2 separate regions of the Homo sapiens genome follow, and region 1 is linked to region 2. The links come from fine-mapping of genetic effects on gene expression. Tissue or cell type: whole blood. Region 2 holds a variant in brackets; the other region holds the start of a gene. All regions are shown on one strand. Distances are from middle to middle.

Region 1 (11,871 bases), 40 kb before region 2:
CAGGAAGCCAGGTCTTCTGCCTCTGCTCTCTGCTTCCCTGCTTCCCTGCACTGCCTTTGTAGAGGTTCCCGTTTTTCCCAATCCTGGCAAGGGTGGCTGTGTCCTGACTCCTCGTGGCAAGGACGGTTGTGTCATTACTCCTCCTGTTCTTACTGCCCACTTCTTCCAGTGCCTACACCCCCTTTCCGGGGGCCCAGAGTCTTTTGGGCCACAGGGGAATTTTGCTAGAAGATGGAATACACAAAGGCAACCTGCTTAATAATTTGATATCTGTAGGCTTTTGCATTTTATTTGCATTCTTAAAGAAAAAGACTCGTAGACTGGGTAAGCAGTGAATATCAACTGCTTACCTTCAGCCTCTATTTCCTAACATATAACATGGGGATGAGGATTCATTGATTAGCAAGTCCTCTTAAACTCAGTTCTGTGGCTGTCAAGGTGGGGTTTTAGAGAGTGGCATCCAGCTGGGAGACAGATTTCAGAACTACAAGTTCGTCTTAGCCCCTCAAACTCTACCACCTGACTGAAGATGCCCTTCTGTTCTGTGAACTTCTTTTCCCAAACTTGGATGGTACTGGATACCTCCCTGATTTCACTATTTGATATCAAATCATCTAGTGTGACAGTAACACAATGACACCAGTCCACAACACCTGGGCAAGTGTCTGGCTTGCTGGATAAACTGCACTTCCCCTTTCCCTTTGCTATATGGAGAGCTGCATCAATCTGGGCTTTCAGGCATTGGTCTCCTTCTAATGAGGGGAATCGACCACACAGCTCCAGCATGACCATGCTCACCTATCCCAGCAAATAGGTGTTTATCCCCAGTGAAACCCAGCACAGAACACCCTTAGGAGTAAAATTAGATTTTGGTGCATGAATGTTATTGACAAAAAAGACTCCCTGCTCAATGCCACTCGGGGACATGAGTCTGAATGTCCCTGCCATGGCCCAGGGGAATGATGTCTGTATCACCAAACCAGTGCTGGCACCTGGACCTTGTCACCACTGACAGGGCTGAGAGGAGGTCAGCTGCCGGCTGCTGTACCCGGAACAGGTTTCTAGGGATCAGGCAGAGGCAAGAGGCTGGGGAAGCAGCTTGCCTTGCCAGCTCACCAGGCTGCTCTGGAGAGAAATAGAGGGCTTCTATCTCTATTACTGTCAGAGTCTGGCACTTCTCCCCGGCTCTGAAATTCACAGCAATGGATGGAGGAGGGAGGAGGGAGAAGGAAGGAGGTGCAAGCCAGACAATCAAAACAGCCACAATATTTTGGAAGTGGAATATTCCAGCTAGAGAAAATTCTCTAAAGCATTGAGCAGTAGGGCTGGAAGAGGCCCTAGCTAATCCAGCACTCTGGTTTTGTAGAGGAAATAGTTGAGAGGCAGAAAGACAAAGCAACTTCTCTGAGGTTACAAGGTCAGTAAGGGGCAGAACTGGGACAAGGCTCTGGGTCTTCGGTGCTTTCACCACTTAAAAGAAAGCTTTTGCTTTCTTCCTTTATAAAACCAGAGATTGGCAGGGGGCTTCCTTTTGTGGGAACCCCAGTGGAGACAGAGGATGTTTACCTGCAGGGAAGAGGGGCCAGGGCCCGGCTGTGCCTGGACCCAGAGTGGTGGGGAAGGGGGGTATGCTCATACCTTGCAGGTTGACGCCCCGGGGCACCACGCCCTGAAGCTCCACTGTGGGCAGGTCATCTTCCGCTGCATTAGAGTTATTGGGTGGAACTGCTCTTCTGCCTCCAAAGGCGGTCCTGGAAGTTTCTGACATTTTTGACTTTACAAGGTCCTTCAGAAAAAAAAAAAAAAGAAGACAACAGAAAAGGCATGTAAAGTGAGTAACATTTGAGACAAGGATTCCAAAATAGAGAAACAGATATATCTGTGTGTGATAGCACTTGAGCAACACATTTTGCCGTTTGCATAAATAAAAACTGAGAAGTGGCAGCAAGGATTAGTCTAATGATGGAATACAGTTCCCCAAGGATCTTGGGGAGATTTTTGTATGTGTCAAAACATATGGAAAGCAGAAGAAAAGGGGCTTATTCAAAGAAATTTAAAAATTAAAAGATTTTTGGAGACCCAGATTCCCCCACCCTCCATAATCCTACAGCAGCATCTTCGCAAGAAATGTTTCCTGTTATATGCATGTGCTGTATCTATGTTCATTTCATACAGATTTATGAGATTATAAGTCACTTTTAAGAATAAACGCACACAACCATGTCCAGACAAATGTTGTCTTCTAAAGCGTTTACATTTGCAATTTAATTCAACCAATATTTATTGAGGGCCTATGACATGCCAGGCTGTGATCTAGGTACATGGGATACATCAGAGAACAAAACAGAATGTTTGCTCTGATAGATTATAGTCTGATAGGGTTAGGGTGGAGCCCAAGAAGAGCCATAAGTAAATCCACTTAGGGGTGAGGAGGTAGGAACTGCTTTGGAAATTGAGCCACATGGAGGAGGATAAGGAGGTGGAGAGGTTGGGCATGCAATTTTCAATAGGGCTATCAATAGGCTTAAGAAGTCAGGGTTGCCAACATTTCCCATTCCCCAAGCCTGCTTCCCCTTCCCTTGGAGCTTGTGCAGGCACTGAGCCAGTTTAAACAACACACACCTGACGGTCAGTGCCCAGTAAGTACTTGTTGACCAAATGACCAAATGAAGGGGGACTTTGTTTCTGGGCCCAGTGAAGGTTCCCCCTTGATCCCCTGGATTACCCAGTCATGACTCCTGGAGACTTGGCTATTTTCAAAAACCAGGCACACCCCCAAGAGGTGAAGAGTCCCCATTATAGAGGCCACCAGAGTAGAGAGATGGTTCCAGAGACATGTGGAGCACTAACAACATGCTGGAGAAAAGACAACCACGCCTAAGGTGTCTGGTCTGAGAAGGAGACAGGAGTGTTTGGATGCATAAGGTGTGAATGGGTATCCATAAGTATAGATAAATATATTTACAGTCATTGGTGAGCTGACGGGGGAAGGGAGGGAGAAGAGCGAAAAAGGGTTAATGATAGGGAGAAGGCTGCGAGAGCCATCCTCTAGTGAGAAATACCGAAGGTAGGCTGCGGCATTGCCAGGGGTGCAGAACAGTGTGGCGCGCTGTCGGGAGACACAGTGCTAAGGGGGAGAAGGGGGGAGCCCCAGGTGCACGCCTGGCTGGGTGAGTGCGGCGGGCAGGAGCCCTCGCTTCTGGGCGGGTCTAAGGAGGAGAAGTGGCTCGAGTTCAGCTCCAAATTGGGACGGAGGCAGGCGATGCGCAGGAGTGGGGAGGCGCGCAGGAGTGGGGAGCCAAGCCGGCGGGGTTCCAGTCTAGCAGGCTGTTCTCACTTGGCCCCACTCCCTCCACCTTTTGTGTTCCAGCTCCATAATCTGCTCCCTGAGGAAAGGGGGCTCGTCCCTTGGGGAAGCACCTCCAACTCCCCCATCCCCATTTGGTGGCATTCTAAGCAAGCAACGGCTTCGGGAGAGCTGCCTCGAGAGCCTGAGAGAAGTCCCGCTTAGAAGCTGGGCTGGGCAGGTGCGGAGTTGGGGGCGGGAAGCCAGGATTGGGCAAGTGGAGCTGCCTGTGACCGGCGCCACAGGGCCCAGAGCAAGCCGCTTGCTGGTTCAACCAGGAAACCGAGGTGCAGAAGGTGGACGCAGCGGGCCCTGGCTCATAGGGTGCAGGGTCGGTGGCTTACCTGCAGGCGCTCCCCTCCAGAGGTGCCCTCGCGTGGGCTTGCTCTGTGCGCCTCGGGGACTTCCTCAAACGGACTCGGGAAAGACAAGACAGTTGGCTCTTAAATAACTTCCTAAGAGGAGCCCTCACCCTCCTCCCCTGTCCCACAGGGTTTTCTCCTCCCCCTTCTCCACAGCTGGAGCCAGTAGGGGAGCTCAGAGGATTTTCTATTTACTTCATCTGGCCTGTTATCCCGGCAGGTGCGCCCTTCTCTCCCACTTGCCCCTCTGACTCCCAATTTCCCATTCCCACTTCTCCTCCCCATCCCCATCCCTAGATCTGCCCTCCCCACCGCAACCAGTTGCTGGGAGTACCAGGCAAGGGGCCCTGCAGTGCCAGGAAGTCCCCACCCGTCCCCTTTGGTCAGAGGGTCTGGGAGGGTTTCCTTTACAAAGGAATGCTTTTGCCTGGCAGGTCAGCTGCTACTGTGGCTTGGCAGGAGGGGGGTCTGCCCTCCCACAGACAGGTCACACAGACAGTTGTGACCATGCATGCAGTGAGAGCAACGTGTCCCTCCTGTGCAAATAAGGCATGGTCTGCATTCCTGAATCATCCCAGAGCCACAGCCACCGCCTAACCACAAGACTTCCTGCAGGAATGGGATGCCTAGCCCCAAGGAAGATGAGTAAACATCTTTAATAATGCCATGCAGATTAGAAAATAACACTTGGTTTTCTCTGAAAATCATTTTAGTGCATGTTCAAAAATTAGAAAATTTTCCCCCTAAAATTTTAATTTTTTTCTTTTACTCTTTCTTTCTTTCTTTCTTTCATCTTTCTATCTTTCAGATGAAGTCTTGCTCTGTTGCAAAGGCTGGAGTGCAACCTCCACCTCCCGGGTTCAAGTGATTCTTCTGCCTCAGCCTCCCAAGTAGCTGGAACTACAGGTGCATGCCACCATGCCCGCCTAATTTTTGTATTTTTAGTAGAGATGGGGCTTTACCATGTTGGCCAGGCTGGTCTCGAACTTCTGACCTCAGGTGATCCACCCTCCTTGGCTTCCCAAAGTGTTGGGATTACAGGCGTGAGCCACCGCACCCAGTCAAACATGGCTATTTCTAACCTTCTTTACTGTCTTCAAATTTCTGACCCTGCCACTCAATCTCCCAATGTTATAAAGAAGAAAAAAAAAGATGCCATTGGTTAGAAATTCTCTCAATTTTCTGCTACCAATCTATGAACCTGCCTGCAACCTTATCTATCTTTTCCTCTTTCTTCTTGTTACTGAAGTTGGAAAGGTCCCTCCTCCCTCTGCATCTCCAAACCAGGCTTCTGCGTTGCCTTGTTCTCCGGGGCTTTGCTGTGACTCTTACGTACTCTTCCTCTTGCAGCTTCAAGCTCCTGCTTGCTAATAGTGGGTCTTCTCAGCATTCATGCAATTTCAGGTCTCTTCAGTATTTTTTTAAAAACCTCCCCCAACCTATGTCCCCACTCCTGCTGTTACTCCTCCTCTCCTCCCCTTCATCACTAAGTATCTGCCATCTGGCTTCCGCCTCATCATTCTACTGAAAGTGGAGGTCACGGTCTCCAAGGCCTGTGCTCAGGCCAAAAGACAGGATTCAGTTCTTATTTACCTGACCTTTTGGAAGCATTGAACTCTGTCTTTGAAGGTATTTTTCCTAGGCCTCCTTGACATTGAACACTCTGTGGTTTCCTCCAGTGCAGCGCAATATTCCTTGATTGTCTGAGGAACTCCCATAGTTTTCAAATTCCATCTATATCCTGACACCTCCCAAATCTGGGTCTTTAGCCAAGATCTTTTCCAGAATTGCAGATTCCCGTATCTAAGTGCCTACTGGCTATCCTCATTTGTCACATCCCAGTGACAACACACGCTCATCATGTCTAACATGAGATGTATCACTTTCCTGGAAAACCTGGTGCATCTCAGGAGTTCCCTACCTCAATGAATACCATCACTTTGCACGCAGGTGGTACACCAGACACATGGGCATCATTCTTGAGGCTTCCTTGTTTCTCTCCCTCAATCATCAAATCCGATCCTTGAGCAAATATTTTCTATCCTACCTCTTAAACAGCCCTTGAATCTACCCGTGTATGTACCCCTTTCCAGTCCATTCTCTACAGTGCAGTCAGAATGAGCATTTCAGGGCTAAAATCCGAAATCAAATTATTTGCACAAAGCCCTTATATGGCTACTTCTCTTTGCTTTTTGGATAAATTGCAAGCTGAAACTGACAAGGCCTATACAAGCTGGACCCTGCCTCTAGCACTGCTCTTTCCCTCAGCATCCATACAATTTGAGGTCTCCAGTATTTTTAAAAAACCTTCCCCCAACACCAATCTACCCTCCCTGCCTTCCACTGTTGTTTCTCCTCTCCTCCTCTTCATCACTAAGCTTCTGCCATTTGGCTTCCATCTTTCTTCCCTATCATCTTCCTCTGCCATCTTTCTTCCCTGCCCAGTCTCCCTCCACTGACTCCCCAGTTGTCTTGCAAGGAGTTTGCCTTGTTGTAGTGCTCCTCACACTGCATGATCATTTTCTGTTTCCTTGGCTGTACCTGCACTAGAGTACAAAAAGGTAGGGACTCCAGCCAGAGTTCCCTGGAGAGAGGCTGCTGACCACTTAACTATCCAAAGGCCGTCTTTGCCACATCCCTTGCTGAGTGCTAGAGAAAGACCCTAAAGATGTCTAGCACTGCTTCCCCTCAGCATTCATACAATTTCAGGTCTCCTCAGTATTTTTAAACCCTCCCCCAATCCTTAACGATCATATTCTGGTAGTTCTCCTGGCAAACATCAAATCTGAGTGTCTAGAATTCCAAGATACCCTCATCCATGTGGGGTTGGAGGATGAGCAGCCACCCTTGCACCCTTCAGATGAGGTTACGCAGATGCCAGGTACCCCTGGGACTTGGGGTTGAGTTGTGCATTCAGAACAGGATTGTCACCCTCACAACCACCTCCACGGTGTCACTTTTGGCCTTAGACTAATTATTGGCTTTGTGAACATACACACACAGTGGTTGGCTTTCTGACTCCCCCAAACCACTAACCTCAAGAGCATCATAAATGCAATGGCTTTCCTTGTGCTAAACAAAGTCGATAAAAATGTGTCTAAGCCACCAAGCCCTAGAATGCGGTTGAAGCCCATTCATTTTACAGGGTATTCCTCATGGTTATATGGCTGAGACATCAGAACAAAGGTTTCTGGTCACACAGTGAATCTTGAACTGTGCTAGGGATGCAACTTCCACAGGTGCATAGGCTCTGAGGTCCTTAAGGATGGGATGGTGTCTTTTATTTCTGAATGCCCCCTGCCTGGCATGGAAGTGGAGCCATGTAAATATTTAAGGCATGTAACAGACGGGGTTCATCCAGGAAAACAAAAACCACTTTAGGTCTTTCTAAAAGAAGGAATTTAAGGCAGGGGATTGGTTACACAGGTGAGAGAAGAGACAAGAAACCAAACACGAGAAGGTGAATCAACTCCACAATTAGCAACAGCAGAGAGGAGTTGGTGTCGTTGTAGCGGGAGGACTGAGGGTAGGTCAGGCACTGGAACCGTGTGGTCCTGTCTGGTGGGAGCTTTAGATCCCATAATTCCAAGAAACACTGTCTGAGGTCAAGAGGGAGGGAAGAATGATCCTAGCTTGTCCCTTTCTTCCCGCTCCCTCTCCCTCCCTTGTCTGCCGTTTTGCTGAACTCCACTAGAATCAGTTGACAAAGGACTCTGGAAAATACCGCCTGCAAAGTTAGCCCCACCACTCCTGTGCTGGGGCCCCAAGGCTACCCCCAGGTTCTGTGATTCACTAGGAGGACTCACCAGACTCGGCCACCCACGTAGCTATGATCAGATACAAATGTACATATATCATATATACTACACGATAAATCATGACGAAAAGATACAAATCCAAATCAGCAGAGAAAAGGCACTTGGGCAAAGTCTGGAGGACCAGGCAGAAGTTCCCAAAGGTCCTGTCCTAATCAAGGCACATGGGCTGTGCCTACCAACCCTGGCAATGAGTTGTGACAACACTGATATAATGTCATCTGCCAGGGATGCTCACCAGAGGCTCAGTGCTCAGGGTGTTTATGGGGGGCTGGTCACATAGGTACCCTCTACCTAGCTCATAGCCATTTTCCAGACTCCCTGAAGGAAGCAGGTGTTAAGCATGAGCCACAATTTTTGTACAGTTTAGGCCCAGCCAGCCCCACTTGTCAGTTAGGGAACAGTGGGAAGACTCCTGAAGTCCAAGTTCCCAGATGCCAGACAAGGGCCAAGCTTGCAAGTAGGGCTTTCTAAGCCAGTTTCAGGTTTGCTATGTTAACTCTTTACTGCATCCATACAGGGAAAGGGTGAGGAAAGGCTCTCTGGGCAAACAGTTCCAGGACTGCCACAACACACTGTGCTCTTTCATCATGGCATGGCCAGTCCCTCACATGAGATGTCAATAGGCCTGGAGCACGAGGAGACTCCAATGAGAACGTCACAAGGGTAATCCAGTTCTGCCCCTACTTTCTTGGCCTTACCAGCTCAGCATGAGACCTCCAAGGAGACGTGAACTCCCTCTGGCTGCACGGGCCTGGGCATACCTTCTCACTCTTCTGAAGCTGAAGGGCTCACCCCATTGCCTCCCCAAGAAGCAGGGTAAAAATTCCTAAACACATCACTCTGGGATCCTGGCGTCTCTCAGAAATATGTAGTAAACTTTGGGAGTTGTGAGTAAACAGAAAATACGTGGGAGGAGGGATTCCGGATCCCCTTACCTTGATCCTTTAATTCTGAGTTTTCATTTCTATGGTATTGACACTTTTCTCTGCAGTCTCTCCAGACAAACCATCTTTCTCCTACTTGGCAATACCCAAGGAGCAGACCATATTTGTTCAGGCAATGAATTTTCTGGCAAACTCTATTTGATTTACATGCAAAACTTCACATCTCAAACAAACAAACAAAAAACCCAGTCATGTCTGGACGCTGCTGGTTTTTTCCAGCTGAACAAGACCTGGATTTTGTTGGTTATAGATGTAATTCCAGAGGGAGGTGAGTAGATACATAAATAACAACTGGCCTTGTTCAAAGATGCCAGACCCTCTGACATGAATGACCCAAGTTCGTCTCTTGGGAGAGTCTTTCTCCTGCACTGCCCTTCATCCTGTAGGAGCTGGAGAAAACTTTCCACTCCAGATGGAAGTGTCCTGGGGGAGAGGATGGAAGGGAGGCTGGGTGGGCAGTTTGTAGTCAGGTTCTAGCCACAGTAGTGAGCAGTGGGGGAAGGCAAGCGGCCCTCTGTATCCATTCACATATTTTTCAAAGCCTCACGAGCGTTTTCACAAAGTCTGGCAATGACATTTTAAAAGGAATTTATAAAGCATCATCGCAGTTGCCACCACAATAGGGCGTGGGATCTAAGACAGGACCATGTCTCCCACAGCCTCTTTTCCTTCTTCTTTCAGGAAAGATGAAAACCCATGCCAGGGACAGGTCCAGATGGCAGGAGTTTTCTCTTTGCTTTGGCTTCCCTGGGCATAGCCCACTCTTGCCAGGGATCTACGATCACCTGTAATCTACCTTCCCGAGGAGCAGTGATGGATTGCTGGGGGCTGCCTCACCTCATGGCAGGCAAATGGAAGAAAGCTGTTCTCGCCTTAGGAAAGAAAGATTTAACTAATGTACCCACCTTCTTACAGTAAATATCTCTGTCTTAAAAAAAATTTTAATTGTGGTAAAATACACATAAAATTTATAATCTTAACCATTTTTCAGTATACAATTCAGTAGTGTTAAGGCTATTCATGGTATTGTATGACCCATCTCCAGAATGTTTCTGTCTTGCAAAACTGAAACTCTGTTTCCATTAAACAACTCCCTGTGAATATGTGTGTCTGTGTGTGTCTGGCTATATATTTGTGAGTGTATATGTCTGTCTGCATGTGACTGTGCACACATCTGTGTGAGCGACTGAGTGTGTCTGAGTATCTGTGTGTATGGGTATTTCTGAGCATGTATGCCTCTGTGTGTATGCATTGTCTACGTGAGTGTATGTGTCTGTGAGTGTGTGCACATCTGTGTGAGCAAGTGTGCCGTGCATATGAGCGAGTATGCAGGTGGAAGGGAAGGACTGAGGAAGCACTGAGGGTTTAGCTCCAGAAAACTTTCTCCACTGGCTTCCTAACTCCTCCAGAGTCCTGATGGAGTTTAAGGAGACTCCAAGAGATTTTTAAACTTGAAAAGACTTTATAAAACATGACGAAGGGTCAACTAGAAGTAGGTCTGTTACAGATAACGATTTTTCAAGTTTAAAGGAAAGAAATTTCATAAAAAATGAAAAATTCATAAAAAAAGAAAATTTCATAAAAAATGCTAGAAACACCCACAGTGGGAAGAGACATCAGTCATGCCAGCCTCACTGCATATGACACAGATGCATGCATGGTTTAATTCAATACTTTTCCTTAAGTGAAGCAAGAGACCCCACATCCACCCATCCCAAGTATCTCACTTTGCCAGAGGAAAAATTCAATGATAACAAAACATTATGAAAAAATTAGTAATTAAAATAATACAGCAATGTGTATGAACAAAATAATCAATGAAAGTGAAACCTAATAGTAATTCCACAAACTTATTACAAAGCTATTAATTTAAAGAGTAGTGGCAATTGAAAACCACAACCAACACCAGATAATGGGGATGCTATAAAAACAATGCTTGCTTCAGTAAAACTATCAGAATGCTGACTAAATGTGTATGCACATATGTGTGCATGTGTGTGTGTGTGTGTGTGTGTGTACAAGTACAGTAGGAGCTTTGGAGTGTTCCCAAGAGTAATATGGCAGCTGGAGTTAGAATCTACTATCTATGTAACCTTGGGCACATTACTTAACCTCACCTGTAAAATGGTGATCCTAATAATGTATACCTCACAAGATTATGAAGATCAAAGAAGAGAATACCTATAAAAAGGTTTGTATAGTCCCTGGCAAGAAGCTAGCTCTAAATAAATATTACCAGTAATGGTATGTGTGCACTGGACAACCTTCACTCATCCATGATGAATATTTTAACTTTTTGTAATAGTTATTACCTGTATTTTCTCATTATCATCCTCATATCAGGGAAGTGAATATTTAAGTTGCTAATAATTTTGGATAATTTGAAGAGGCCATTATCAGCATTTATTGCAGTATTTTCTGTCTAGAACCTCTTCAAGAGCTTCATGTGCAATTCATGCTTGTCAAGGGGTGAGATTTATAATTGGCTGGTTGTGGTTGTATATGTGAGGATATGTATATGTGAGGATATGTATATGTAAGGGTCTATTTCTCTTGCTCTGTCACCCAGGCAGGAGTGCAGTGGCGCGATCTCAGCTCACTGCAAGCTCTGCCTCCCGGGTTCACGCCATTCTCCTGCCTCAGCCTCCTGAGTAGCTGGGATTACAGGTGCCCGCCACCACGCCCGGCTAATTTTTGTATTTTTAGTAGAGACGGGGTTTCACCGTGTTAGCCAGGATGGTCTCAATCTCCTCGTGATCCGCTCGCCTCAGCCTCCGAAAGTGCTGGGATTATAGGCGTGAGCCACCGCGCCCAGCCAATGCCTTCCATTTTTAAGCTATATAAGAAAGATGTCTGGGGAGTGGGTCAGAGACTGATTTTATTTGATATATACCAAGTGAAGGCACCAGCTTCCACATGGTTGCCAGTGAAGGGACCAGCTTCCACATGTTGCCAGTTCTTTCTGGAAGCCCACATCCAGGTAGGCTTCCTGGGCAGACCCACGGGCATCTCACCAAACTCTTCTAATGAGGTCTGTGGCTATGGGTCAGCAGGGTGCCCCTGTCTTGGGCACTCTTGCCCAAGAGTGCCGCTGCCCTCTGTTGTAGTCGCACAACTGCACCTTCTTGCTGATGAGGTGAAGCACTAACACAAGGCCAGAAATGGAAGGGACATGATGTCAGCTGGAGTCTTCCTAACAGCAGAACTTCTGGATAATGATCTATGAATTTCTAAGGAAAGCCAAAGGCCATTGCATAATCGCATGTGTGGGTGCTAAAACAGCCAAATAAAGGGGCAAGTTCTCCTTTCTTTGATGCTCCCTCAGCAATTTCTGCAGTGAAGTTTCAGATAACTGTGCCAGAGCCCTTCCTGTGAAAGTGTTTCTTGTTAATGCATTTCTC
Region 2 (12,239 bases):
GCAGTAGTTTGGAAGGATGTCGAATATTTAAAATGTGTCGTTTTTCTGAGGTTCGAGGTCTTTAAGATGATTTGGGGGTGTGCAGATATACCCTCTGACAGTTCAAGATCAGCTTTGTAAAAGTCTTCATATTTCATACGCAGACAAATGCATTAACAGTGCCAACAAATGAGAATTACAGTGCAATCCAGACAAAGGGTGTAACAAATCCAAGGAAATCTGCTTTGGCAAGAACCACTTGGTGAATGCAATAAAGCAAGCTCTGAGCTGCAAATGTCACTCCCTGCCCCCACGTTGGTCTCAGCTGAGCAGGTGGGTGTCTGCCTTGCCTTGAGCCACTGAGCAACTAGGAGCGTGAATATTATTTATTATTCGTAAGAAATGGAGCCAGTGCATTTCAGATATTTGCAGAGTGTTGCAGACATTAATGAGAGTGGAGAAGCGATCTGTTCCCTGGTGGACCCCTACTGCATTTATTCGAATGTGTGATTATTAAACTGCACAAGTCTCTCTGGGGCTCAATGCCCAGAGTGCATTACACCCTGGAGAATGTGAAAATACTTTAATTAACAACAGGAGTGGGCAGACCTGCTGAGTGCCTTCTGTTACCATCCTTGCGACCTGGAAAGTCAAGACTCATTTGTCACCCCCACCATTTTTCATTATTGATATAAAGAAAACACTAAGCAACAATTTCATTTGAAATCAATTGGAAAGGCTGCTAAATATAAGATATTTCACTCCTTTCCTTCCTCTGGCTGAAGTTTATTAGTAACCAACATTACACAAACACATGCACACATCAGCATGCTCACACACACATGAGAAATGAACTTGAGATTTCTCTATATTCCACGTGCTCTGCAAATAGTACGGCACTCTGGAGCGTATAGATGGAGAACATGCCAAATTGACTTGGAATATGCATCCATTTGAACATGTAAATTTGCATTAGTCAATTACTCAGTCTGATAAATGCTTTGGTTCATTAGTTTAAATAAAATACTGGGAAACTCCTAACACCCTAGCTGACTAAGAAATGATGTGTTTTTGTTTGTTTGTTTTTTAAATGTTGCTTCAGTGATTTCTGCCTGAACTGGTTGTATTTAAGACCATGTAGTACCCAACCACAATTTACAGGCCAGGAGAAGGGGCCTGCCATGGACACTGTGCAAAGATCAACTCTCATTTTTTAATCTTGTACCCTCTGTCCAGAACTGATGTGTTGCCGCGTGAGAACTGAATGTGAGGAGAGTGGTTGTGCACACGCATGCAAGCCAACCTTGGATGTTGCCCCACAGCTGGTCTGCAGTCTGGCTTCTTGTAGAATAGAGCCACTTCATGACATGGACTGGTTTGGCCAGAATTCAGAATTTACTTAACAAAGACCTAATTGTCACATCACTCTACCAATTCTTAATTATTTATCGAGCATCCACTAGCGCCCCAGATTGGCATAGGCCCCCAAAACAGTGGGCAACCCAGACGAGAAGAGACCAGTATCTGAGACACATTTGGAGAAAATTAAATGCTGATTTGTGACATTGAGACTTTAACCTCCTTAAAAGCATACTATTTTTCCAGAAGTATTGGGGAAAATACTTTTCCAGAAGTTTTGTTTTTTGCTTTTTTGATGTACTAAATGAGAGTGGAATGGACGGTGAAGCAAGAAGCTATTTTTTTTAAAATAAACTTTTCATTTCAGAAGAGTTTTAGATTTATAGGAATATTGTGAAGGCAGAACAGAGAGTTCCCATATGCCCACACACCCAGTTTCCCTATTATTAACATCTTACATTAGTCCAGTACTTTTGTTATAATTAACAAACCAATAGTAATACATTAGTATTAACTGAAGTCATACTTTATTCAGATTTCCTTAGGTTTTGCCTAATGTCCTTTTTCTGTTCCAGAACCCCATCCAGGCTACCACATTACATTTAGTCACTGTATCTCCTCAGGCTCCTCTGGGGACAGTTTCTTAGACTTTCCTAGTTTTGATGACCCTGACAGTTTTGAGAAACACTGGTCAGATATTGTGTAGAAGGCCCCTCAGTCGGGATTTGTCTAAAGTTGTCCTCATGAGTAGATGGGGGTTATGGTTTTGGAGGGAGAAAGACCACAGAGCTGAAGTGCCCTTTTCATCATGTGAGATCAAGAGTGTGTACTATCAACATGACTAATTGCAGGTGCCATACTTTTCTCCCCAAGAAGACTATTGTCTAAAAGTATTTGAGGCCTTCCCTGCCAAAGTAGACGTATAAGGCATCAGTCATACACCAAGTCATATACCTGATCCACTTCTTGGACTATGACCAGCTTCTCAGTTTACTCACATGGCTTATGGACCCTAATATTTGTCATGCAGCACTTGCTTTCCCTAGTAAGCATCATTTTCAGCATTAACATTAGATATTTAAAATGTACAGAGGCTATGAACTATCTTGAAGAGAATATACTTTCCACCTCATTCTAGAAAATCAAGTGTATCGTGATTTACTTGTGAGAAACCTCAGCAACTGAGTATTTCAAGAAAGAGCTGAACCCTTATATTGACTGACTTGGTGATTTTACATTTTAAATGTTCCTGTCACAGTTGAGTAGCTATAGGTACAATTTTTTCATGAGATAACTTGCGGGATTGAGAACAGGAGTGTTTACTGAGCATCTACTATATATAGACATTTTACATAGTGTACCTCATTTAATGACCACAGTAATCCTACATCCAGGTCAGGTATAATTGCATGCACTTCACAGAAAAGGAAGTGAACTGTCTGGTAAACCAGGGCACATGATGACGAATGATGAACTAGAATGTCTACATGACCCATATTCTTTCTACAATACACTCTACTCCTGCTGGAGTTGATAATGCTGTGTTCTAAGGGGATACAGATAGGTCTCTCTCTCATGCCTGAAGTGTCTCCATAAGTGATGCAAGACTTTTGATCTCCAAGAATTGCCAGACTTCAAGAATCTTCTGGAAAAATAAAAGGTTTTTTCTTTATATACATTAAACCTTGTATGTTTAGTAAAAAAGTTCTGTACATTTCTTCATTTTTCCTATATTTAGGCAAAGTTTCCCACTCTTTTTTGATAATGATATTTAAAAATGTCTTTAATAAAATTGCTCATAAAATTTATAGGACTTGCCAGAGAATCAAAGTGAGGGAAACTTTAATAATAGTGTACAATAGAAAAATACATACTAATGTGATTAGTATGAAAATGGAAGCAACATATGTATTAAAATAGATGGTTTTTTTTTTTCCTGTAATACACAAGGAGCTTGTATAACTTAATGAGAAAAAGAACAATCCAACACAACCATGAACAAAGCTCAGGAATAGGCCGTTTTCAAATGAGGAAATAAAAATGGCTAGTAAATATATGAAAAGATATTCAGACTCTTTACTAATCAAATAAATGCAAATCAAAACAACAGTAAGATTTTTGACACATCAAATTGGCAAAAATTGAAAATGCCGATTCCCAGAATTGGCGAGAATTTGAAACAAATAGTTTTTTAGCAATACCAATCATAGCTTAAGTGTACATTTCCTTTGAACCAGAAATTCCCCTTCTAGAAACTTATGCTGTAGAAATATTTGTCAAGTACACAAAGATATGTTTCCCTGGGTGTTAATTGCATCATGGTTTATAAATTACAAACTAGGAAACAATCCAGCTATCAATTAGTGGGGGTTTATTAAAACAAATTATAGCACATACACACAATGGAAAGCTATGCAAATCATTAAAAAAAGATATAAAGGAGAGCCACATTATGTTTTTGAGTGAAAGAATCATGTGGCTGAAGTTTATATTTTTTATCCAATGTGTGTCACTATATGTGACTTTGCCTACACATTCCCATACCTATCTTAATGCAGCAGTGATTGGACTTTACAAGAAAGAGAATCCTAAACGAGGCATAATCTTATTTTTTGCATGCACTGATAATGCATCTGCAAACAGACCAGCAATTTAGAAAAATATTTGTAAGCATAGTCAGGATGTTATAAGCATGAAGTTCAGCTATTCATTAAAAACATGCTGAATTAAGGTCATTGTACATTATTAACCAGGACTCTGTTAATAGTGCACAATGACCTCAATCTAAGACGTTCTAGGAAATATCAGAAGCATGGGAGTTATATAAGACGATTTCTTCAAACATATGGATTTCATTAATTGCATGGCTCCAGATTCGACTAGTCTTTTCTCTAATTCCTTTGTCACATGCTGAATGTTATAGAATGAAAAGGCATAAATAAACATCATTACAGAAAATGTTCCTTTGCTACTAGCTTTAAGTAATTGCTATTCAACTCTAAATAACCCACTTGAAAAAAAGAAAACATCATTAGTCTGAAATGTCTGCTAACGTTTTCTTTCTACTTTGTTAAGGTCCATTTAAGGAGAGACTTATCACAGCCATACTCAAATAATCTGATCCTCTAAAAATACTTTATAGTTAAGTTACACTGATGAAAGTAATGTATTTACCCAAGAGGTAAACACATTGCCTGGAAAATTCCTAATTGACAAAGGAGTAGGAATTTACCCTGTTGTGTGTGGGGCAAACCAATGGTGAGGCTCTGTGGCCCTCAGTGGAGAATAAAACCTATAACAGCAAGGGTAATGTTCACTCTATATGTCTACAAAGGCTGAACTTGGACGCCATTGTCTAGCATCTTTTGAACTAAGTCTAGAACAATGACACTCCCCTTGGACTTTCTAAGATACTTCTAGGGCTTTAAGTTTATCTGATATTTGGCAAATGCTCAGCACAATTTTGATTCAGAAAATAGTCACTCTAGCCATATCTAATATGGATGGTAAAAACTGGCTCATTATTATGTAGTTATGGAAAGTTGTCCAAAGGATGCCAGGTGTTCATCATGGCTACTATGATTTTGAGTGGAAAATGTGGACCCAAAAATCTTTTATGAGGAGGTACAGATACGCCACCTAAAACAATAACCTACTAAAAGCACTAAGAGAAATGAACAACAAATGAAGCAGCCATGGGAAATACATCAAGAAAGTATGGCAATCTGGCTGGACCCAAGGAGTGCTTTGAACAGCAGCAAGCTCTAGAAATAGCAGCAGAACTTAGCCCAGTCTGGTTTGTGGGCTGCTGGTCATGCAGTGTGGTCTTTTTGGTCACCTTTGCTCACAAAGGTAGAGTTCATTGGAACAAGGGACTGTTATAACATCTTTCAACCTGGTATTCATTTTTGAATCATTGCATAACATTTACATGGAATAACACATACCAAGTTTTGAATAGTAACAGGCGCAACCTCAAAGGCACCATGACTTGGATAGGCCTTCAAAAGTCCAGCGACTTGGTTGAATGAATCATAATCTCTTTGATCTAACATCTGGACGGCAACCCCTTTAAGGATCTCATTTCCTGTATATTCACATCTCTTCCTTGCATAACAATATCCACCTTCAGACACACACAGGGTAAAAGCAGAGAAAATTTTCAGAGTCTAAGCTCAACAACAATTTTGTTTATTCCAGCATCATGGTTCAGCCTTTTGTTTTTACTTTTCAAAAACATTTTTAAAACAAATTGGGTATTTTTTATTACTACAGTCCTAATGTTTTACATATTGCTTAGCACATAATTGACAGTAAACAGTTAAGGAAGGAGTAATGGAGAAGGGGAAGGAGTTTATTTGAGAGAGTTGGGGCTTAATTATCTGTCACATCTTCAATTCCCAGATTTCCTGCAGCATGAGTCAACTACTAACCCAGTGAGCAACAGAAAATTTCACATCGTTTTAAGAAAGATAGTGGGGCAATCTTATTTCTACTGCCAGCAAAACCTAGGATGGCAGCAGCAGAAAAAGGTATAAAACATAATTTAGAGGTTAAGAGCAACTGGGGCAATGAGCTAGATACCCTAGTTGTGACGACAGACCCACAAAGTGGGGCGTCAGGTTGGGAATTCTGTGATTAATGGCTCTACAAAGGGAGAGATTTTAAAGAAGCAGAATATTTTATAAGTATCTTCCTAGTGTTCCTGTAGGCCCCTGACCAAATCTTTCTGATGATAAAAATAGCATTTCAACAATCATAGATCAATACTTCTGGGTCTCCACCCCTCCATTCTCTGATAAAT[C/T]TCTGGCCTTTCTCAAACTCTTCATGCAGAACCATTGATAAACTCAACAAGCATCTATGAGCCACGACTAATATGTGCCAGTCATGGTATGAGGAATACAGCTGTGAAAAGGATAGTCATGAGCCCTTCTGTGAGGAGCTGATAATGTGATGAAGGGTTCTGGGCTCTCCCAGAGATGGTCTCACTTGTACTCTGAGTGCCAGTGCTGTTGGCTCTAAGAGACATCCAATGCTCTTCTTTCCTCGTCCCATTTTCTTTGGGGATGATCCCTACCCTTAGCTGTACCCAACCAGCACTGCTGTGGTCAGTGCCCAGAAGTCACACTGCTCCTCTGATGGCGCCCATCAGATTGCTCCAAGGCTGGTCTTGCACCTGTTAACCTATTTCCTGTTTGCCTGAGAATACTCTTGTCTCTCATCTTAATGTAACATCATATACATCTGTGTTACATTAGGATTAGAGACAAGTTCTGTTTAGAAATAACTACATGAAGTGTTTTTATATTTTATTTTCACATTGCAAATCAGTCAGATTTGCTTCAGCCTCAAACAGCATGTTTATGTAAATTAAATGAGCACTGGTAGCAAGCTGCACTTGTTTCATTTTTTTCTAAATGGGAAATAGGAAATGGGCTAAAAATATGGAGGACCATGGCCAGGCTGCCATTGGCTGAGGAAGCTGAAGCCATTGGGGGCATTTCCCATGGTGGCAGAAGGTGCCAGCACCCATGTTCATGGCATCTTGTCCTTTCCATGGCCCACAAGGACTTTTGTCAACAGGCTTTGCAATGAACAACAGTCCTTCTCTCAAAAACTTCACATTCTAGAGGGAGAAAATTGGGGAAGGACATATATATATACACATATATACATATATATATTACATATACACACACACACATATATATATATACACACATATACATATGTTCAACTCCATCAGCTAGTGGTGACCATTATCAAGAAAAACAAAAACAAAGGACAATAAGCAGAGAGAAAGTGATGGTAGAGATCACTTTTATATAGTGATCGTCAAGGGCCACTCTGACAAGGTGGCATTTGGGCTGAGACTGAATAAAGTGAGGTGGTCAAATGGATATCTGGGGGAAGGGCATCCCAGTGGAGGGACCTACTCGTGCAAAGGACCTGACGTAGGATTGCACCTGACATCTTCAGGCCACCCCTAGTAAGTGAGTGTGGTATGATCAAGATGAACATGAAGGAAATGAGGTCAGGTAGTGAAGGAGCTGGATTTCATAGGGTCTTGCAGACCTTGAGAAGGGCTTGGGGTTTTCTTCTGAGTTAGGTAAGAAGCCATGGTAGGGGTTGCACAGAGGGCAGCACAATCTGACCTCGGTTGTAGAATCAGCACAGACTGGCTGGGGTGTAGTGAATAGATCGAAGGGTGCTGAGAGGGAGATATTTGGGGGCGGGCAAAAGGTGATGGTAACTTGGGTAAGGTTAGTAATAGTAGAGGGGTTGGAGAGCATGCTTGGACTCAGAATTTGCTTTGTGTTGGATGTGAGGTGGGAGGGAAAAGCAGTTAAGGACAACTTCAGGATTTTTAGCCTGAGAAACTCTAGAAGTACTGCTAGCTATCTTTAATTGGAATGTGAAAGTCTAAGGGGAAGAAAGCTTATGGAGCAAGATCAGAACTTCGGTTATGGACAAGTTGATTTCAGATGCATATTAAACATCCAGTGGAGATACTGACTAGGCAGCTGATTACACAGGATTGGAGCATAGGAAGACATCTGGACCAGTGAGTTAACATTGGGAGTGTTCATCTTATAAGTTCATTGGACTAAATGAAATCGATGAGGCACTAAGCATTAATATTAAACAGATAAGAGAAAAATTCTGAGGACTTCTGAAGGATCCTGGAGACCTGCAGCATCCAGGGCTAAAGAAAGGATGAGAGTGTGTTTAAGGAAAAAAAAAAAAAAAACAACCCTGAGGAGGAGTAGCCTGTGAAAATACTATTCTGAAAGCACAGTGAAGAAATTGTGTCAAAGAGAAGGGAGTGGTCAAGTGTACCGAATACTTTTGACACATTGAGGAAAACGAGTATAGGGGTTGATGGAGAATTGAAGACTAGCATTGTCAACATGGAGGTCATCGGTCGGTGAACAATTAGTTTATTTTCTAAACTGGGACACTTTTAAGAGTGAAAGAGGATATGTACTAGTAATCTATTTCTGTACAACAAATTATCCCCAAAGCTCAGTGCTGTGTTAACACAGCAAACATTTATTACCTCCTACAGTTTAGATGGTCTAGAATTTAGAATTTGGTACAGGTTCTGGCTCAGCACCTCTCATGAGATGGCAGCCAGCTATTGGCTGGGACTGCAGTCATCTAAAGGCTTCACTGGGGCTGTGAGATCTGTTTCCAAGGTGACTCAGTCACATGGCTGGAAAGTTAGTACCAGTTGTTGGCAAGGGCTTCAGTGCCTCCCCACGCGGGCATCCCACAGACAGCTTGAGTATTCTAACAACATGGCAACTGTCTTCCCCCGGGTCAAGCAACCCGAGAGAGCAAGGCTGAAGTGGTTACTTATGTTGGCCCTACTCAATCTGGAAGGGGTCCCAGAAGAGTGTGAACAATTGGAGACTAGAGACTAGGATAATTAATTGAGGGCCATCTTCAAGGATAACTACAGCAGGGTTTATCCATATTTATGCTCAGGTAGCAGATATACACTGGGACCATCGCAGGCAAACTGAGATGCATGGTCACCCTAATCTTTGGTGACTTTGGGGAGTGTAGTGATAGAGATGAGAACCACATCAATGAAATCCAAGCCCAGATCTATTGCTCAATCACTCAATTAAAAAATAAGCTAATTTCTCATTTATTTCCACTAGACTTGAAGCAAGTGGAATGGTGAATGTGATGGATGCTCATTTTACCATTAACTTGCAGTCCAACAGGGTTAAGCAGAGTCGAGATGGAAATTTAGATTATATTTAATTAGATTTATTATCTAATAACATTGTTTTAGTACCTGGATCCGGCCAAGCCTAAAGCTCACATTAACTATAACAGTCATCACATTCTTCCCCCATCCTCCTTAAACATTTTAACTTAGACCTTTTTTTTTTTTTTGGAAATTTACAACCAAAGGAATCCAAATTAATGTCTCCCTTGTTTAAATAGATCCTTGTTGAACACCATCTACTAATCTCCCAGACACACCTAGGCGTGTCTGAGTGCAGGGTAAACATAGTTTAAACTCAATCTGGTCTCCCTGGTACACTAAGAAGGCTGTTCAGGTCATCTCCTTTAAGAACTTCAACTTGCACTAGCATCTTACCTAGTGATTATGATTAGAAGATGGATTTTATATGTAGGAGTATATATTGACATTGAGCTGATATCAGTATTTGAGCAATCCATAAAAGTCAATCTTCAAGATGGGCAATGACACAGGTACTTCTTTAGAAATATCTTTACTCTGAAACACTGAGGGATCTTCCTTAAATCATTCCAGTAGCAAAAGCCTTGCCCTGAAAAATGTTGTCAGCAGAATAGCTGGACCACCCATCTGGAACCAAGTTGAAGTTCATCTCTATAAAGGAAAAGAAAATATCTGTAAATTGCATGCTAGTTGCTTTCTCTTCTGTTACCTTCTAACTACCCTTCTAGTTCATGTTTCCTTTAGTCATCCCAAGAACAGAACTAGGTTTTCATACAGCCTCTCAGGATTTATTCTACTTATAGTATATCTATCTTGAATTGGAATGTGATTAAAACTCTATAGGTGTTAGGGACATAGAAGAAAGGTTAGAGGTGAATAGAAAAAGACAGCAGTGGCTGTAATCGGCCTGCGGGGCTCTCTCCTGCTGGAGGTTATCCCACGCTGAGGACTGGGGACTTGCAGCCATCTGGAGGTTACTGTAGATCAGTGCCTCTTTGGAATGCACATGTAGAGGCGGAACAGGACTGAGCTGCGCCTGTAGAAAATTGAATGTGTCCATTGATCCGCTAAGTCTGAATAAACTCTCATTCTTGTTAGCACAGCAATTAGTCCTCATGGTCACTGGAGCATTGAAACAAGGCAGTTTGGCCCACTTGTCTTGTTTTCCTGTATTCCCAAACATGAAACACGTCCAGATTGGGACAGAACAAACCTCCTTCACTTTCAATCACCACCCGCTTCAAATTAAGAAGTAGACTGAGAAGCGGCAACAGCATGGAGGTGACATTTAATCTCAAGATCTACCCACTGCTGTTGCTCAACATTAGCTTGGCCCTTTCAAAGAACACAAGCATGTTCTGGGCATCTACTTTTTTTATATACATAATCTCGCTTAATCCTCACAAGTGAGATTTATACAGCAGCCTCTCTTGCAGAAGCACAGTTCACGCAGAACATGTGCATGTGGCAGAAACATCGGCGATGGGCAAAATCTGCTAATGGATTGAACCTAGAGGAAAGAACCAGCAAAGCCAAGTCATGATTCTAGATCCACCACAAGATCATTTGTGCTCAGTTTCCCTTAAAATGCAATAGACAACATTAAGGTAAGTAGAGGATCAGTGTTATCATGTTCAATGTAGAACTCTGAGCTTCTTCATGGAAAGGTGTTTAAAAATGGACGGTATGACAGCAGTTGAGTAGTCCTTTCACACTCAGACTTACCCAGAGTGGGTGGGGAGAATAATGTGAATTGAGCCCACTGCTGTCTCTGTGCAGTTCAATGTTCCCAGATGGCATATTCAATTAGAGTTTATTTCATCATCTTAAAAGAAACTTATTGAGAAGTTATATTCTACACTCAACAAGGGAGAAAAGCATATCAAGATGCTAGCTCTAATATGCTGTTACTCTTCCATAGTTCATGGCATAGAACCTGCCATAACTTTCCCCAGCCACACTTAGAGAACAAGACAGTGTCATGTCCTCTTTTGAGTGTCAGTTTCTCCCCCTTAAGCAGGGTATCTCGGCCTTGTCACTATTGATATTTGGAGCTGGATAAATGTTTGTTGGGGCAGGGTGGCTGCCTTGTGCATTGAAGGACTGTTTAGCAGCATTCCTGGCCTCCACCTGCCAGATGCCAATAGCAGTAATGACAACCAGAAGTGTCTCCAAACATTGCCAACTGTCTCCTGGGAGTAAAATCACCTCTGGTTGAGAACCACAGCCTTACAAAATGCATAGCAACTGAACTACATTGCTTGTTTGAGTTAGGAGGTGTAGAGGGCTGACTGATCATTTATGCAATCATCCATTTTATAGATGAAGCCACTGAAGCCAAACAAATGTGGTGCCTTGCTTTAGGTAACACAGGTAAGTGGTACAGCTATCATTAGAAACCAGGCTTACTGACTACTCCCTGACTACCTTATCTAAGTCTTGGTAATGGAAAAAAAAAATCCTATTATCATCTACCTGATCAGCGCAGTCTGTTTGAAGAAAGCCCACTAAATCTAGATGGGTTAGATCTAGATTTAGTCGGCTAAAACCGCAATTACTTTTGCACCAACCCAATACATTAGGTGAACCTGTAGTTCTGGAATAGTCAATGGAATGTGTGGCAAATTAAAAGTAATGGCAAATTAAAAGTAATTAAAAGTAATGGCAAAAACTGCAATTACTTTTGCACCAACCCAATATTATTGGTCTAATCCAAGCTCCTCTGAGGTCATGCTGATTTAGGCAAAATAACCCTCTGTCAATTTTTTACCTCCGTCTCCTCAGCCCCACTCTTCTGTTCCCTCTAGTCCCTATAGAAGCTGTGCTATTTCTAGGACACACAGTCACTGAGTATGTTGCAAGATTGAACATCTTCAAATCCTCTAGTGAGCTCCACACCCTTACACAAGCCAACACATGGTTAAATGGTCATGAGTGCAGTTGGTCAGTCCCACCACTGTGCTTCCTTCTTCAGCTCACTTGATTTTCCTTTCTCTGCCCTTAGAGTCACCCATCCCCTTCCATGTACCAAATTCTCACTCACCTTCAACCAAAAAATCCTAGAATGGCCCCTACTGTCAGAAGATCCATGCCCTCCAAATCTGAATTGATCGTAGACACTTTAGCTGAAGATTCCTTTCTTCTTTAAGTATGTCCACCAAATTCTGGGCCTTGCCCA

The links.
Region 1: it holds the start of F13A1, and the variant in region 2 is fine-mapped to the expression of F13A1 in whole blood (TOPMed, PIP above 0.99).

What each region holds. Positions count from the first base shown.
Region 1 is chr6:6,316,897-6,328,767 of GRCh38, forward strand. F13A1 (coagulation factor XIII A chain) reads right to left here and starts at 3,766. Exons shown (of 15, transcript NM_000129.4): 1 at 3,691-3,766; 2 at 1,639-1,786. The coding sequence starts at 1,768. All of the region lies in intron 1 of LOC124901253 (a long non-coding RNA gene), which reads left to right.
Region 2 is chr6:6,356,898-6,369,136 of GRCh38, forward strand. LY86-AS1 (LY86 antisense RNA 1) reads right to left here. Exons shown (of 8, transcript NR_026970.1): 5 at 12,105-12,239; 6 at 9,458-9,712. Among named protein-coding and RNA genes, the nearest start is that of F13A1, 42 kb to the left of the region's middle. RefSeq lists an enhancer at 4,725-5,924. The variant C/T (reference allele first, on the strand shown) is at 6,143.